Linked DNA regions of Homo sapiens: regions 1 and 2 are each linked to region 3. The links come from fine-mapping of genetic effects on gene expression. A gene starts in region 3. Each other region holds a variant in brackets. All regions are shown on one strand. Distances are from middle to middle.

Region 1 (5,211 bases), 75 kb before region 3:
ATTACCATGTGCTGGGGGGTAAAACCTTTACTTCAGAATGCATAAGTAACTGAGAATACTGAAAATTGTGTTCAATATTTTTAGTAACAATGCTTAAGCCAATTAATTCTAAAGAAGGTGTTTTCCAAGAGAAGATGTATTTATATGAAATATTTTTCAAAGCAAGATGCAAATATGTAGATAATAAAGACTTTATGTGATAAGAGATAGAAATGAATCTTAGGTAATTTATTACTATCCTTTATCATACAATTACAAATCCTATCACACGAGCACATTCCAGCAACAAATATTTATTGAATACTTACTATATTCAATTAGGGATTCAATGACAAATATAAGCACTATTTTCCTGGAGTGTTTATAATAATAGAAAAGAGTGGCTACTTACACTAAAAAATAACCAACAATATGTGTGGGCTCAAAAAGAGTTACAAATAATTGGTACTCTAGGAACAAATCACTGTGAACTAACTGCAGTAATCAAGAAGACAAGACTTGAATAAATCATTGAAGAAAGAATAAGATTTAAAGGACAAGGAAGGCTATTTCAAGAAGTGTCCATGGCTTGAGCAATTGGTGTTTTCACAGTGTGTAAGTCAGGCTAGTTTCAACAAAGGGTTTACATGGGAAAGGTACAGGAACAGTATTTTAATAGTGGCCTTAGGTTGAGATACTTCCAATAACTCAATAAAAGGTAATTTGTTCTTATTCACAATTTAGTCTTTAACTATGTTTTACTAGGATAAAATAGAATTGGTAAGAATGTTTCTCCTTTGGTTGAAGAGTCTATCTATAAACTATCTTTGTACAAGAATATTCAAGGAGATAAATAAGTCTTAAGCTGATCAATAAATAATTACCAGGCAAGGTGTCAGACCCCTGGCAATGGAAAGTGACTGGCTTGCAGGTAGTAAGAATAATTTACTGACAACAGTATAGATTTTGAAAAAGGAACGTTTTATTAGAAGGAAAGAATGCTGGAGAAGAGTGCAGAAGGGAGCTTCAGCAAGAGAGAACTGAGCTCACAGCAGTGGATTTTCCTCAGGAGTATTTATGGACCTTAAAGTGGGAGCTTAAGGGTAATTTGAACCATGTTAGCCATGTAGGTCATGATAAATGATTGCATTTGTAGCCATTTTGGTGCCTTCATGTCAGGAAGGGTTGCACAATGAGTTTTAACATGTATGCATTTTGAAGATGTACAGAAATTCTAGTTACTTATAAATGTTGGGGAAAGAAGCCTGGAACTAGATCCAGCTTCAGATAATAGGGAAGTCCAGCTACTTCTAATTTCCTCAGATAAGGAGTTTTGCCTCTGCATGGTCTGCTTGATGATCCTTGCTCTTCTTGAATCTGGAGGGAAATGATTGATGAAATGTTCCATACTCACTGTATTGTAGAGCTCTTCCAGTCGAGGGATGGTAAGAAAGCGATGGAGGTTCACTCCATATTCTATTAAGAGCTTCACAAAATCCACCCGATCCATCACTAAAGCATCTGACATTGCTTGTTCCAGGGCATCAGGCTTCAGAAAGCACAAATAAGAAATATAAAGACAATTAAGAAAGTAGAAATAACTAAAGAATTACATGTTTTTGAACTCAAAATTACACAAACACAATAATTTTAAAATAAAATCCTGCCATCAGTGGGTACAGAAAAAAAAAAAAAAGGAAAAAATTTAAATACAGTCTTACTAGGCCAGGCTCAGTGGCGCACACCTGTAATCCTAGCACCCTTGGAGGCTGAGGCAGGTGGATTGCTTGAGTTTAGGTGTTCCAAACCAGCCTTGGCAACACAGCAAAACCCTGTCTCTACGAAAAATACAAAAATTAGCCAGGCATAGTGGCATGCACCTGTGGTCCCAGCTAATTGGGAGGCTGAGGTGGGAGGACCAATTGAGCCCAAGGGGTCAAGGCTGCAGTAAGCCATGAATGCATCACTACACTCCAGCCTGGGCAACAGGGCAAGACCCTGTCTTGAATGAATGAATGAATGAATAAATAGTCTTACTAAGAAATGTGCAGGACTTAAGTGAAGACATCTTGAATAAATCAAAGAACATCCCATGTACTTGGATGGGAAAACTG[A/T]TTATTGTAAAGATCTCGAAGCTTCCCAAATGAATGAATGTACAGGCTTAATGCAATTCTGATAGACATTCAAGGTTTCTTCTTCTTCTTTTGTTTTTGTTACTTGTCATGTGTCCATTTAGACTCTACCTGGCTTCTAGGCACAAATGGCAAGTTGAACATGCTCATCTAATTTTTCTCCCACTCAAAACTTCATTAAAACTACAGTAAAGGGATTTTTGTTACAAAATAAATCTACAAGGACAAGGAGGACAAGAGTGGAGACAAGAATGCAACATTTTGGAAGCTGGAAAGCAGATGGTCAAGTCATAATTGACTGAGCAGTCACCAGAAAGCCAAATAGTAGAAGTGGAAAATGTCAAGAGACAAACAGATTTATACTACAGAATTCCAACAAAAACAAAATACATGTATACATGCTGAATCCCTAATGTTGGGGTCTTTCCAGTCATCTTTCCCCTTTGAGTCCCATAACACTAGCAACAAGGCTTACACCTTCCAGTCAGGGAACTAGAGGATTCTTTTCTGATAATGTCACCAATACAAGAGAAAAGACATGAATATGTTGGTATCTGGGGGCCCCTGAACTAATGGCAGTCAGATCACCCTACTGTGAAACTCAAACCTATAGGCAACCTCCAACTACAGGCTCGGAATTTCCAAAGAGTTTTTTATCCGCTACACTTAAACAAAAAGACCAAAACAAACAGATCAAAAAACATCAACTAGCAGGAAGCAGACAATCCAAGAAGAAGAAAACTTCAAAAGAGCTCTCATTCATATCCTCAAAAAGGTAAAAGAAGATATCGTATTCTGGGCCGGGCACAGGGGCTCACGCCTATAATCCCAGCACTTTGGGAGGCTGAGGCAGGCATATCACCTGTGGTCAGGAGTTCGAAACCAGCCTGGCCAACATGGTGAAACTCCATCTCTACTAAAAATACAAAAATTAGCCAGGTGTGGTGGCAGGAACCTGTAATCCCAGCTACTCGGGAAGCTGAGGCAGGAGAATTGCTTGAATCTGAGAGGTGGACATTGCAATAAGCCAAGATTGTACCACTGCACTCCAGCCTGGGCCACAGAGTGAGACTCCATCTCAAAGAAAAAGAAAATATTGGATTCTGGATGCTAATGAAAAACATAGGGGAGGGTGCAATCAGGGAGCAAGTTTGCTGTCACAAATTAATAGACTGCCAGGCATAGAAAGACAAATTTACATGTGCTCAATAATTCGTAGGAGCTGAAAATGAAAACAATTGAATCCATGGAGATGGAGAGCAGAAGGATGGTTACCAGAAGCTGGGAAGAGTACTGAGGGGGATAAGGGGGATAATTAATAGGTACCAAAAAATAGTTAGAAAGAATGAATAAGATCTAGTATTTGATAGCACAACAGAATGACTATAGTCAATAATAATTTAATTGTACATTTTAAAATAATTAAGTATTATAATTGGATTGTTTGTAACAAAGGACAAATGCTTGAGGGGATGGATACCTCATTTACTTTGATGTGATTATTACACATTGTATGCCTGTATCAAAATATCCCAGACACCCCATAAATATATACACCCACTGTGAGCACACAAAAATTAAAAACTAAAAAAAGAAGAAATTAATAGATTCATAGTATGCTACCAGAAAAGAAAAGCTTCATAGAAGGCTTGAAAATTAAAGTTGAGGCTCAGCCTATAATCCCAGCACTTTGGGAGGCTGAGGCAGGTGGATTGCTTGAGCCTAGGAGTTCGACCAGCCTAGCCAACATGGCAAACCCCTGTCTCTACTAAAAATACAAAAATTAGCCTGGTGTAGTGGCACACACCTGTGGTCCCAGCTACTCAGGAGGCTGAGGTGGGAGGATTGCTTGGTGTGGGAGGTGGAGGTTGAAGTGAGCCGAGATCATGCAACTGCACTCCAGTATAGGTGACAGAGTGAGACCCTATCTCAAAAATAAATAAATTAGTTAATTGATTATTAAAATTAAAATAAAAAAATAAAGTCCAGCAAAGCTACCAAAGGAAAGATAGGGAACATGGGAGGAAAGAGATAAGAATATTAGAGGAGCAGTCCATAAGGTCCAATATTCAAATAATAGGAATTACAAAAGAGAACAAAGGTTGGGGGTGTTACGGAAGAGAAGGGAATGGAATGCAATGAAAACATATGATTGCCAAGTTGAAATCATGTGCCCAACAAAATGGATACAGAGACTCACAACAACACACAGCATAACACTGGAAAAGAAAGATTTTTTTAACTTCCAGATAGGAAAAAAAAATGGTGACAAAGAATCTGAAAACAAAAAAGAAGTGTTTACTTCTCAATAGAAATTCTGGGTGCTGGAAACTAGGCATTCAAATTTCTGTAGGAAAAAATAGTTTAAATCATGAATTAAAATACACCCAAACATGTAAGTCCTCAAAATATGTATCTCTCATACTCCCTTTCTCAGGAACTTATTGACACATGTATACCATCAAAATGAATGAGTAAACAAAGAGGAAGACAAGGACATAGAAGACATGCCCTCTAACATGGGAAAGAGGCAAGGGAATCCCCAAGATGATGAGGGTGCATCCCGGGATGACAGCTGTGCACCAGGAGGAGAAGGAAACTGGTCCACATTGCAGCCGTGAGGCCCACAAGACAGAAGTGTTGAAAAATTTCTGAAACTAAATGAACCAAAATATAGCAATATGACATTATTTAGAAATATGGAGATTTATAAGTGTTAGAAAAATCAAAAACATCTTAAGTACTAGCTCTTGTGATTAGCAGGGCAGAGAACTACCATCTTTTAAAATTGCCTTTTAATATCATTTGATATTTTAAACAATGTGCATGTATTAGCTTGGCCCAAAAATAATATACCTGTAATACAGCCACAACTATAATCTTTTAAAATGAATGTTAATAGTGATTATCATTAGCATTATGGGTAATCTTTCTTCTTTTTTATGTTTTCACTAATTTCTAATGTGAGCACCTACTACATTTTAAAGCAAAAAGTAAACTTTGAGTTTTAAATAACAAGATAGAAATCTACCCAAAAATAAATTAAAAATTGTACGCCAGGCACAGTGGCTCACGCCTGTAATTCTGGCACTTTGGGAGA
Region 2 (5,230 bases), 41 kb before region 3:
ACTGTGGCATCTCAAGGTAGAGGGAGAGAGACAGGATCGGTCAGTGGAATAGTCAGAACATATATAACATTTATCTAATTGGTTTGCCCCATCTTATATGGGTGCAGTTCATGACACTCCAAAACAATTACAATAGTGACATCAAAGATCGCCGATTAAAGATTGTCATAACAGATACAATAATGATAAAATAAAAAAGTTTGAAATATTGCGAGAATTATTAAAATGTGATGCAGAGACAAGAAATGAACATGTGCCACTGGAAAAATGGCACTGACAGACTTGCTTAATGCAAGGTTCCCACAAACCTCCACATTATAAAAAATGCAATATCAGTAAAGCACAATAAAGTAACATACATGAGGTATGCCTGTACTAAAAATCTCTTGCATACTCATGTTCATAGCAGCATTATTCTGAATATCCACAAAGTGGAAGCAACCCAAATGTCCATCGTGGAGAAGTGGACAAACAAAATGTGGTATATAAATACCATGGTATATGATTCAGCCTTAAAAAGGAAGAAAATTCTGACATATGCTATAACATGGAAAAACATTGAAGACATTATGCTAATTAAAAGAAGCCAATCACAAAAAGATAAACAGGCCAAGGGTAGTGGCTCACGCCCGTAATTCCAGCACATTGGGAGGGTGAGGTGGGAGAATCGCTTGAGGCCAAGAGTTCATGACCAGCCTGGGCAACATAGCAAAACCCTGTCTCTACAAAAAAATATAAAAAATTAGCCCTGTGTGGTGGAGCAAGTCTGTAATCTCAGCTACTAGGGAGGCAGGAAAATCACTTGAGCCTGGGAGGCAGAGGCTGCAGTGAGCCGAAATTACATCACTGCACTCCAGCCTGGGCAACAAAGCAAAACTCTGTCTCAAAACAAAACGAAAAGTAAGAATAATTTATCATTTTATGCATTATCTACAACATGTTGAATAAAACTAACAAAAATACAAATGTAGAGGGAAAGAGTTATAATTTAGATGAGTAATAAGAGCCTCTCTGACATTTTGGGATGGATGATTTAAAAAAAATTTACGTAAAAAATAAACAAAAATATCCTCCCTAGGAAATCAATTTGACATCAAGAGAGTTCTTATCTCTTCAAAATGAATATCAAGAAGCAGAGAAAATTTGTCATTTATTATAAATAATTGAGTACAGTTCCTACTGTGACTTTCACCTAACCTTGATTAATCAACAGATAAGTTGATCAGGTAAGTTGATTCTGCTTAGCTGCCTAGATATTAAATTTCTGTTTTCTTTAGATTTCTTGTCAATACAAACAAGTCAATTTATGGCCCAGTACATGAACAGACATTTAAGGCGCAAATTGTTTGCTTCTTTTTTTTCCCTATAATTAAAGCTCATTCTCTTCTTAAAGGGAAATTCATATTTCTACATTTATGTACCTCCTTTGCAAGAACGGCCCTATCATATTATTTTAAAGTTCTTGCTATACCTAATTCTCATTTAAAACAATTATATTGTTTTCTGGTATGAACTTCAGTGACACATTTTATATGAGAATTAGATAGGTATAGCAGGAACTTTAAAAACTGAAAACATTTTTCTTATCGATATTTTAGAATTTTTTTTCTTTTTTTTGTGAAACAGAGTCTCTCTCTCTGTTGCCCAGGCTGGAATGCAGTGTGACATGATCTCTGCTCACTGCCACCTCCACCTCCTGGATTCAAGCAATTCTCCTGCCTCAGCCTCCCAAGTAGCTGGGATTACAGGGGTGTGTCACCACGCCTGGATAACTTGTTTGTATTTTTAGTAGAGACAGGGTTTCACCATGTTGCCCAGGCTGGCCTTGAACTGCTGACCTCAGGTGATCCACCCACTTCGGCCTTCCAACGTGCTGGGATTACAGTCGTGAGCCACTGCTCCCGGCTATTTTACAATATTTTTCTAAAAAGCACACTTTTAAGAAATTATCTTCATCTATTAAAATCTTCAGACTTGGGTTTGTTTACACGTTCCAAAAAGCCTAGTCATCAGTCCTATGAGTCTACAAACCACACATGGCTCCATGCACTAATCCACCATGACATTATTCCTTTGCTACCTTGAGTACACAGACGAGGTGTTCTGCAAGCCAACAATGGTCTTTTCACAATTAGGTGCTGCTATTCACACACCATCAAGTTTTAACTGAAAATGGCTGACAATGTCAAGTACTAGCAAGGACACATTTCCTTTGTAAAAAAATTTTTTTAAATTATTATAACATTCTCACTTTTTAAAATTTTCACTGTTTAGTTTGAGATAAGGTCTTACTCTGTCACCCAGGCTGGAGTGCAGTGGTGTGACCATGGCTCACTGCAGCCTCAACTTCCCGTGCTCAATCAATTCTCCCACCTCAGCCTCCCATGCAGCTGGAATTACAGGCAACGACTATCACGTCCGGCTAATTTGGGGTTTTGCCATGTTGCCCAAGCTGATCTTGAACTCCTGGGCTCCAACAATCCTTCTCCCTCAGTCTCCCAAAGTGCTGGGATTTTTAATCATTATTTTAAGATGTTAATTTGCATTCAATATTGTCAAAGGCAGGCTGCTCTGATGGTAGTAGGTTATCAGAACTTACTAACATTAGTGTCACTAAAGTTGGTATACAACCCCCCACTGCTAAATTTGACTGGCTTTAATATATATATAGTCATATATATAGTCATATGTATAGTCATATACAGTCATATATATAGTCATATATATAGTCATATATAGTCAAAGTCATATATATATAGTCATATATAGTCAAAGACAAAGTATACTCTAAACCATTGTCATTCTTGATTTTAAGACCCATAAGTAACTTTGTGTCTCTGATTAAAGTTATGAAGCCTACACTCAGGAATTCTGAAAAATAGATAAATAATGAAGTTATGAAGCCCGTCTCAAGAAAAAATATATATGTAGCAGTAGTTCTCCCTTACCTTCAGGGCATATGTTCCAAGACCTCCAGCGGGTGCCCAAAACCGCAGATAGTAC[C/G]AAACCTAATTGCTGTCAATCAGAACAGGTTTCTGTTCATGTCTTCCACCCACAAATGCAACGACTGTTTCATTTTAACTAAGCATTTATCAAAATTATGGCCCTGTGGCCATAATTTTGCAACTGAAGGTACAGCAGTAAAACTGGCATGAATTTCTTTTTCTTTCTTCGCAATTTCATGGATAGAAGATGGATTTGTACCACAGATCTTAGCAACCTCAGCTAACTTTTATTCTTAGCTTATTAAGCTGAGAACTTTCACCTTTTCACTTAAAGAAAGCACTTTATGGCTCTTTGGCATGTCCAAATTGCCTGCATCACTACTCTTGCACTTTGGAGCCATTATGAAGGGTTACTTGGATTCAAGTACTGCAATACCAAGACAGTCAATCAGATAACCCTGACAGCTACTAAGCCACTAACGGGTGGGGAGCGTCTGTAGCATGGCTAGGCTGGACAAAGGAATGATTCGTGTCCTAGGTTGGACAAAGCAAATGGCAAGAGATTTTATCATGCCACTCTGAATGGCACGCAATTTTAAACCCATAAATTGCTTTTTTTCTGGGATTTTCTATTTAATCTTTTTGGCCCATGAGAAACTGAAACAATGGAAGGTAAAATGGCAGAAAAGGTGGGACTACTCCTTCCAAATTTCTAAACCTTCTTTAATTAAAAATTGCATCCTGGTCCACAGTTTTCCTCAACTGCCCTGCCTCCAGCTAGATAGTAATGCCTGCAATGCCCCGCCTGAAAGAGTCAATATTCTTCTTGACAGCTTTTCATTCTAAATTTCTGTGTCTATATTCTGATGCACAATTAATTCCATGGACTACGTAAGGTGCAGTATACATTAGTAAATGTTATATTTAACTTCTATATATCTGCTTATCTGATGACAAATACATACAGTGAGAAGAAAAAAACGTAAAGAAATCTAGACAGGGCCAGAGCTCAATTTCCAAAATGTTCCAAAGAGACAATAGAGACAAATACATTTGAGTACATGGTGGAGAAATGTGGCTAGCTGTTATGGACTGAATTGTTTTCTGACAAAATTCATATGCTGAAGCTCTGACCCCTAATGTGACTGCATTAATTACCTCCTTAAAGTTTAGTTAAATTCAGCAGGGCACGGTGTCTCACGCCTTTCATCCCAGCACTTCGGGAGGCCGAGGTGGGCAGATCACCTGAGGTCAGGAGTTCGAGACCAACCTGGCCAACATGGCGAAACCTCATCTCTACTAAAAATACAAAAAATTAGCCAGGTGTGGTGGCAGGTGCCTGTAATCCCAGCTACTCGGGAGGCTAACACAGGAGAATCGCTTGAACCCAGGAGGCGGAGGTTGCAGTGAACTGAGATTGCACCATTGCACTCCAGCCTGGGAAATAAGAGTGAAACTTCATCTCAAAAAAAAAAAAAAAAAAAAGTTAAGTTAAATTAAGTCATAAGGATGAAGGATTAATTTGATAGAAATGATGTCCTTAGAAGAAGGAGAGATCCCCAGGATGTGTGCACACAGAGAAAAACCATCTGAAGACACAATAAGAAGGTGGCCATCTGCAAGCCAAGGAGAGATCACAAGAGAAACCAACCCTGCAAACAACTTGGTCTTGGATTTCTGACCTCCAGAACTGTGAAAAGTTCATTTCTGTTGTTTAAGCCACCCAGTTTGTGGTATTTTGTTATGGTAGCTCTAGGTGACTAAAATCCTGGCTATAGAACAGTGGATTGTACCTGACAAGCAGGGGAACCAAAAACAAGAGCTGAAGTGCAGGCAGCCTAGGCCATAAACAGGAAGCATCTAGGAAGCGATGTGTCCTGGAGCAAAAGCACTGGACCAGGAGATGGCCAACGTCATGCAAATCTCTACTCTCCCAAAGCCTCTATTTCTTCAACTGCAGTAATGTAAGGATTGGTTGGACAAGGTGGTCTCTAATGCCTTCCATTTCCTTTCATTGTGTAACTGAGAACCTGTAGCAATGCTCAGTGTTGCAGGACCCTGCTCTGAAAGAGGTGATCAGTGGGCTAAGGATACTTATTGTGCATCTGCTGTATTGAGCAGCATATGAAGTAGCACATGGTGAGAAGTTACAGGGGAAACAGAAGTGTCTACAACTTACAATCTCTTCAGAGAACTAGAACAGGGCTGGGCGCAGTGGCTCACGCCTGTAATGCCAGCACTTTGGGAGGCCAAGGCGGGCGGATCACTTGAGGTCAGGCATTCAA
Region 3 (5,230 bases):
AAAAGGCACTAGTGAGACTCACATCATAATATCTTACCTAACAGTGATGGATTTTACAGAAAATAGTTGCCATGTAGACTTCTGATGTGTCACAAAGGAATAACTGAGTTATAGGTAGGATGGTCACTTTCAGTTCCAGCATGGTATTGATTCTACCAGAAGTATAATGAAAATCACTCAGATTATTTGGGCTGTTTATACTGAAAACTCATGATTTAAAACACAGTGAGGCCAGGCACAGTGGCTCAGGCCTGTAATCTTGGCACTTTGGGAGGCCAAAGAGGATTGCTTGAGCCCAGGAGTTCAAGACCAGTCTGGGCAACACAGCGAGACTCTGTCTCAAAAAAATAAAATAAAATAAAAAGTGAGAAATTTGAAAAAGAAGGAAAAAGAGAGAAGCCATATTTCAGGCACAGTATTTACCAAATGCTTGATAGTTTTGGCATAGATGTCCTATCCAAAAAATTAACTATGATAGATAATTGTAAATAGGCAAGATAAGACCAAAATTTGTGACAAATTGCAACATATTGCACGATTCTTTCCCTTCACCTCTGGTATAATGATCTCAAATGCTATTCATGCCCTTGTCTATCAAGACAAGTTTAACACTACCAAAGGGTACTAGTCTCCAGTTTTGGCCCAAAAAACAAAACTCATGCTAACTCCTACCCTAGATGGTTACCACTCCTGGTGGGAAACATAAGAAACAACCAGATTCTTAAAGTCAAGCCCAGATTCCAGTCTGGCCAAAATAGCTAACGCTTTATCAGTCCTGTAAGAACCCAAAGCAGATGACAGTGAAACATCAAAATCTGTATACAGGGGGAAAGAAATTGAATAACTCGTTTCCCACTTTAACAATTAAAGGTGATCATTTCTCCCTAGAACAAATAATCACAAATGATGTGTATGACTAGAACATCTATGTTCTCAGTGTCTTTTTTTCTCTTTTTTTTTTTTCTTTTTTATGTTCTCCGTGTCTTAAAGCACTGACCTGAGTTCAAATCTCAAATCTGCTTTTCTCCTTTGGTTTCATTTTCCTCACCTGTAAACCGGTGGAGATGGGAGAGACAGGATACTTGGACTTTATAGGATTACTGCCAGGATGAAATAGTTAAGAATCCCAAACTCTTACAACCTGCTAAATACGTCAGGCATTATTCTAAGTGCAAATGGCATGTAGCATTTCAATTCATCTTGAAACTACAAATCGTATTATCCCATTTTCCAGATGAGAAAGCCGAAGAACAGATGTTAACTCGCCCAAAATCACAGGTAGTGATGCAGCTGGGATGCTAATTCAGGCTACCTGGCTCCAGAGCATATGTTCTTATCAGAGCAGGCTGAAATGAGCTAACGTTTGCTAAGCTGCCTGGACTATTCCTGAAATACAATGTGCTCAATTATACTTATTTTTCATACACAGTGTGAGAAAGTCCAGACAAAATAGGCGAGACCAAGAAATTACCAGGATCTCCACTACTCTCCCAAGCGTCTCCAGTGCTCTCCCAACAGCCAGGAGCACCCTCCCTCTCCAAGCCCCCAGAACTTCCTGTTGCGCCATATGCCAGCGGTGGAGAGGAGCCAGCGGGGACTCCTGAGGTTGCAAGTCCGGGCGGCGCCGCGTTGGGGAAGGAAGCGGACTGCGGCGGGGCGGGTGTTTACCGTAACCGGCGCTGTCATCGCTCCGGGACTCCTGCACGGGGAACACTGGGCGCACGGGGACGCGCAGGGGCGCGGAGGGACGGCCGTCTGGGCACTTCTCCAGCCGCCTCGGAAAGCCGCGACCCCCGGCTAGTCAGCGTCCGGGTCTGAGATCTGTGCCCGTGGCAGCTCAAAACGCGCCTTCTCTCCTCCGGATTCTCAGCTCAAGCCACCTCCGAACTCCTCTCCCTCCGGCCCGGAGCGGAATCAGAGCTGCCTCCTCTCCCGGGGTGTTTCCCACCGCCCCGAGCTGAACCCCCGACCCCCGCTAGGTTTCCGCTCTGACACCACCTCCGCTATGGCCGCATCCCAGCTCTTGAAACGGGGGCTGCGGGACCTGCCCTGTAGTAGCGTACACTACCTTAGATAGGATAATCATCTTTGGGTGGAGACCAGAGAACTTGAAAGCCGGTATTTCATAAATCCTAGCTATTCTAGATCCTCGTTAGATGTAGTGTCCCTGGCCCCACCCACTTCTATCTAAGGCCGGGGGCGCAGATCTAGCGAATCGCCTAAGGTCCTTGTTCCCCGCCAGTCGAGCAGCCTGAGCTTACCTGCAAGCGCTCCAAGACAGGTTGTTCTTTCATCTTTGATTTGCAGGCCCTGCTCCCAAAGCCCTGTCTGAGCTTTTAACTGTGGAGGCAGAAACTCTGGGCTCCACCTCCACACGCTGCCTTTTACAGCCCAGTGGATCTGTCACAATACCTTTCGGCTTCAGTTACCTAACTGCCTAGAAAAGAAGGTGACTCTCAGTTTCCTTCGATAAAAGAAGAATAACGAGGATCAAATGGGATGGCCACTGTCATCACAGACATCCTTTGTAGTAATGTATTGTTACTGTTGAGTCAGTGTGGGGCGTGAGGAGATCAGAGATTTAAGCTAACGCACTGCTTTTACTACCTGTGACTTATTGGGCATGTCAAGCCTCAGTTTATTTATCTATGCAATGGGAATAATAGGGACAAAAATCCAGTTCCCTCACAAGGTTACAATGAACAAAGGAAATCACTTAATGTGCTTCATGTGTAACATACAATACAAATGTTTTGTTATTTCTGGTTTTTTTTTCATTTTTTTTGTTTGTTTTGTTTTGTTTTGGTGGATTCCTCTGGATAGGCATCTTCTCTTTCTTTCTTTCTTTCTTTCTTTCTTTCTTTCTTTCTTTCTTTCTTTCTTTCTCTCTTTCTTTCTTTCTTCTTTTTTTAGAGATGGAGTCTTGCTCTGTTGCCCAGGCTGGAGTGCAGTGGCAGGATCATGGCTCACTGCATCCTTGACCTCCCAGGCTCAAGTGATCCTTCCACTTCAGGCTCCAGAGAGTAGTTGGGACTACAGGCACACACCACAGTGCCTGGCTAATTTTATTTATTTATTTATTTATTTATTTATTTATTTATTTATTTATTTTAGAAATGGGGTCTCACTATGTTGCCCAGGCTGGTCTCAAACTCTGGACTCAAGCGATCTTCATGCCTCAGCCTTCCAGAGTGCTAGGATTACAGGCGTGAGCCACCATGCCCGGCCTAGGCAGTCTTGATTAAGGTTGTGGTCAGTGATTTGGGGTGGATCCCAGGGTGTTGGCAGAGGTGGCACAAAGCACACAGGCAAAATGATGCTCACATTATTACAAGTGTAATTAACAATGCTAGTCATTCATCCCTGACAACCGACTTAAAATTAGGGACACCTACTCATTTAGTTTATTATGAATTTTTGCCTGGTGAATTCACATTTGCAGACAGTTTACAGGTTTTTTCCCCTCATTTCTCAATGTGGTTTTAATAAGCATTTCTTTGTTTATTGGAAAATTGTAATCTCTCATATGTGTATTGGCATTTTGTTGTTTTTCTTTTTGTTGTTGTTGCTGTTGTTGTTGAGCCAGGGTCTCGCTCTGTCACCGGGCTGGAGTGCAGTGGCACTATGTCGGCTCACTGCAACCTCCACCTCCTGGGCTCAAGCAATCCTCCAGCCTCAGCCCCCGCAAGTAGCTAGGACTACATGTGCAAGCCACTACACCTGGCTAATTTTTGTAATTTTTGTAGATACGGAGTTTCACCATGTTGCCCAGGCTGGTCTCGAACTTCTGAACTCAAGCAATCCACCCACTTCAGCCTCCCTAAGTGCTAGGCATTTGTTGTTCTTCTATAAACACATTTAATCTCCTTTCCTCTCCTTAACCCATCTTCTTTAAAGCGTTAATCTGTAAACAGTTAACAGGTTCTGAAAGCTCTTCTAAGGCAAGTAAATCCTTCTCGATCTCTGTCTTCCATACAATTTCTTTGTTAGGTCTCTTACAGTGACTGGGTCAGAGAGTTCTCAGAAATCTTCAGACCCACCAAGAAGAGTAGCCATTTGGAACTCAAGATTTGTAAGAAGTCTACCATCTTCTAGTTTACCATCTTTGGTAAACCTACATGTTAGGATGATCATATATTCTTTTCAGATCAAGCTTCAAGGCATTTAGAGCCTGAAATACAAGGGCAATGTGAAGTGCTTAAAGCATTGAATGTACTAGTTTACAAGCTGCCTTTGGTTCCCAAGCTGTATCAGAAACATCTGAGGCATTTGTCAAAAGTGCAGATTCCCAGGCTCCAACCACCCTACCCAGATCTCTTGTATCAGGATTTATAGGGTGGGGCCCAGGAATCTGTATCTTTCACAAGCACTTTAATCAGTTGTCAAACTTGTATATAAAACTTCTTGTCCAGGCATGGTGGCTCATGCCTGTAATCCCAGCATTTAGGGAGGCCGAGGCAGGAGAATCACTTGAACTCATGATTTCGAGACCAGCCTGGTCAACATGGCAAAACCCCATCTGTACAAAAAAAAAAAACAAAAATTAGCCACGCGTGGTGGCTTACACTTGTGGTGCCAGCTACTTGGATGGCTGAGGTGAGAGGATTGCTTGAGCCCAGGAGGTCGGGGCTGCAGTGAGCTATGATGGCACCACTGCACTCCAGACTGGGCAACAGAGTAAGACCATATCTCAAAAAATAAATAAATAAAAAGAAAACTATTCTGGGCACAAACATACCTATGCCCAGGGTAGCTGTGAAAATTAAATTTTAAAATATTCATTAGTAGTCTAGTGTGGTTTGATTCAGGCCAACAAATATTTCCTGAACATAGACTGTTTGTCAGGCATCATGCTGGGCACCAGGAAAACAAAGATGAATAAGACATTGTCCAGTCTACAAGTAGCTCAAGTTTATAAGAGGAAGATGAACAATCAAAAATGAAACTGGGAAGAGGTGGAGCAAGAAGGTGGAATAGAAGGCCCCGATCATCCCCTTTGTAGGAAAACCAAATTCAACAACTATGTACGCACAAAAAAAGCACCTTTCTAAGAACCAAAAATCAGGTGAGCACTCACAGTAACTGGTTTTAACTTCATATTACTGGAAGAGGCACTGAAGAGGTAGGAAAGAGAGTCTTTTTTATTTTTAACTTTTATTTTAGGTTCAGGGGTACAGTGCAGGTTTGTTTTATAGGTAAAGTCATGTCATAACAATAGCCAATAGTTATT

Evidence for each region. PIP is the estimated chance that this variant, and not a neighbour inherited with it, causes the effect. A credible set is the group of variants that fine-mapping cannot tell apart.
Region 1: its variant is the best candidate, but not a certain one, in a credible set for the expression of TRPM6 in whole blood (INTERVAL, PIP 0.69).
Region 2: its variant is the best candidate, but not a certain one, in a credible set for the expression of TRPM6 in whole blood (TOPMed, PIP 0.66).

Annotation. Positions count from the first base shown.
Region 1 is chr9:74,810,906-74,816,116 of GRCh38, forward strand. It overlaps TRPM6 (transient receptor potential cation channel subfamily M member 6), which reads right to left. Exons shown (of 39, transcript NM_017662.5): 12 at 1,394-1,528. Among named protein-coding and RNA genes, the nearest start is that of TRPM6, 74 kb to the right of the region's middle. The variant A/T (reference allele first, on the strand shown) is at 2,094.
Region 2 is chr9:74,844,942-74,850,171 of GRCh38, forward strand. The region is part of intron 3 of TRPM6 (transient receptor potential cation channel subfamily M member 6); the gene reads right to left. It also overlaps the pseudogene RNY4P1. Among named protein-coding and RNA genes, the nearest start is that of TRPM6, 40 kb to the right of the region's middle. The variant C/G (reference allele first, on the strand shown) is at 3,004.
Region 3 is chr9:74,885,563-74,890,792 of GRCh38, forward strand. TRPM6 (transient receptor potential cation channel subfamily M member 6) reads right to left here and starts at 2,359. Exons shown (of 39, transcript NM_017662.5): 1 at 2,262-2,359. The coding sequence starts at 2,294. RefSeq lists an enhancer at 1,451-1,745.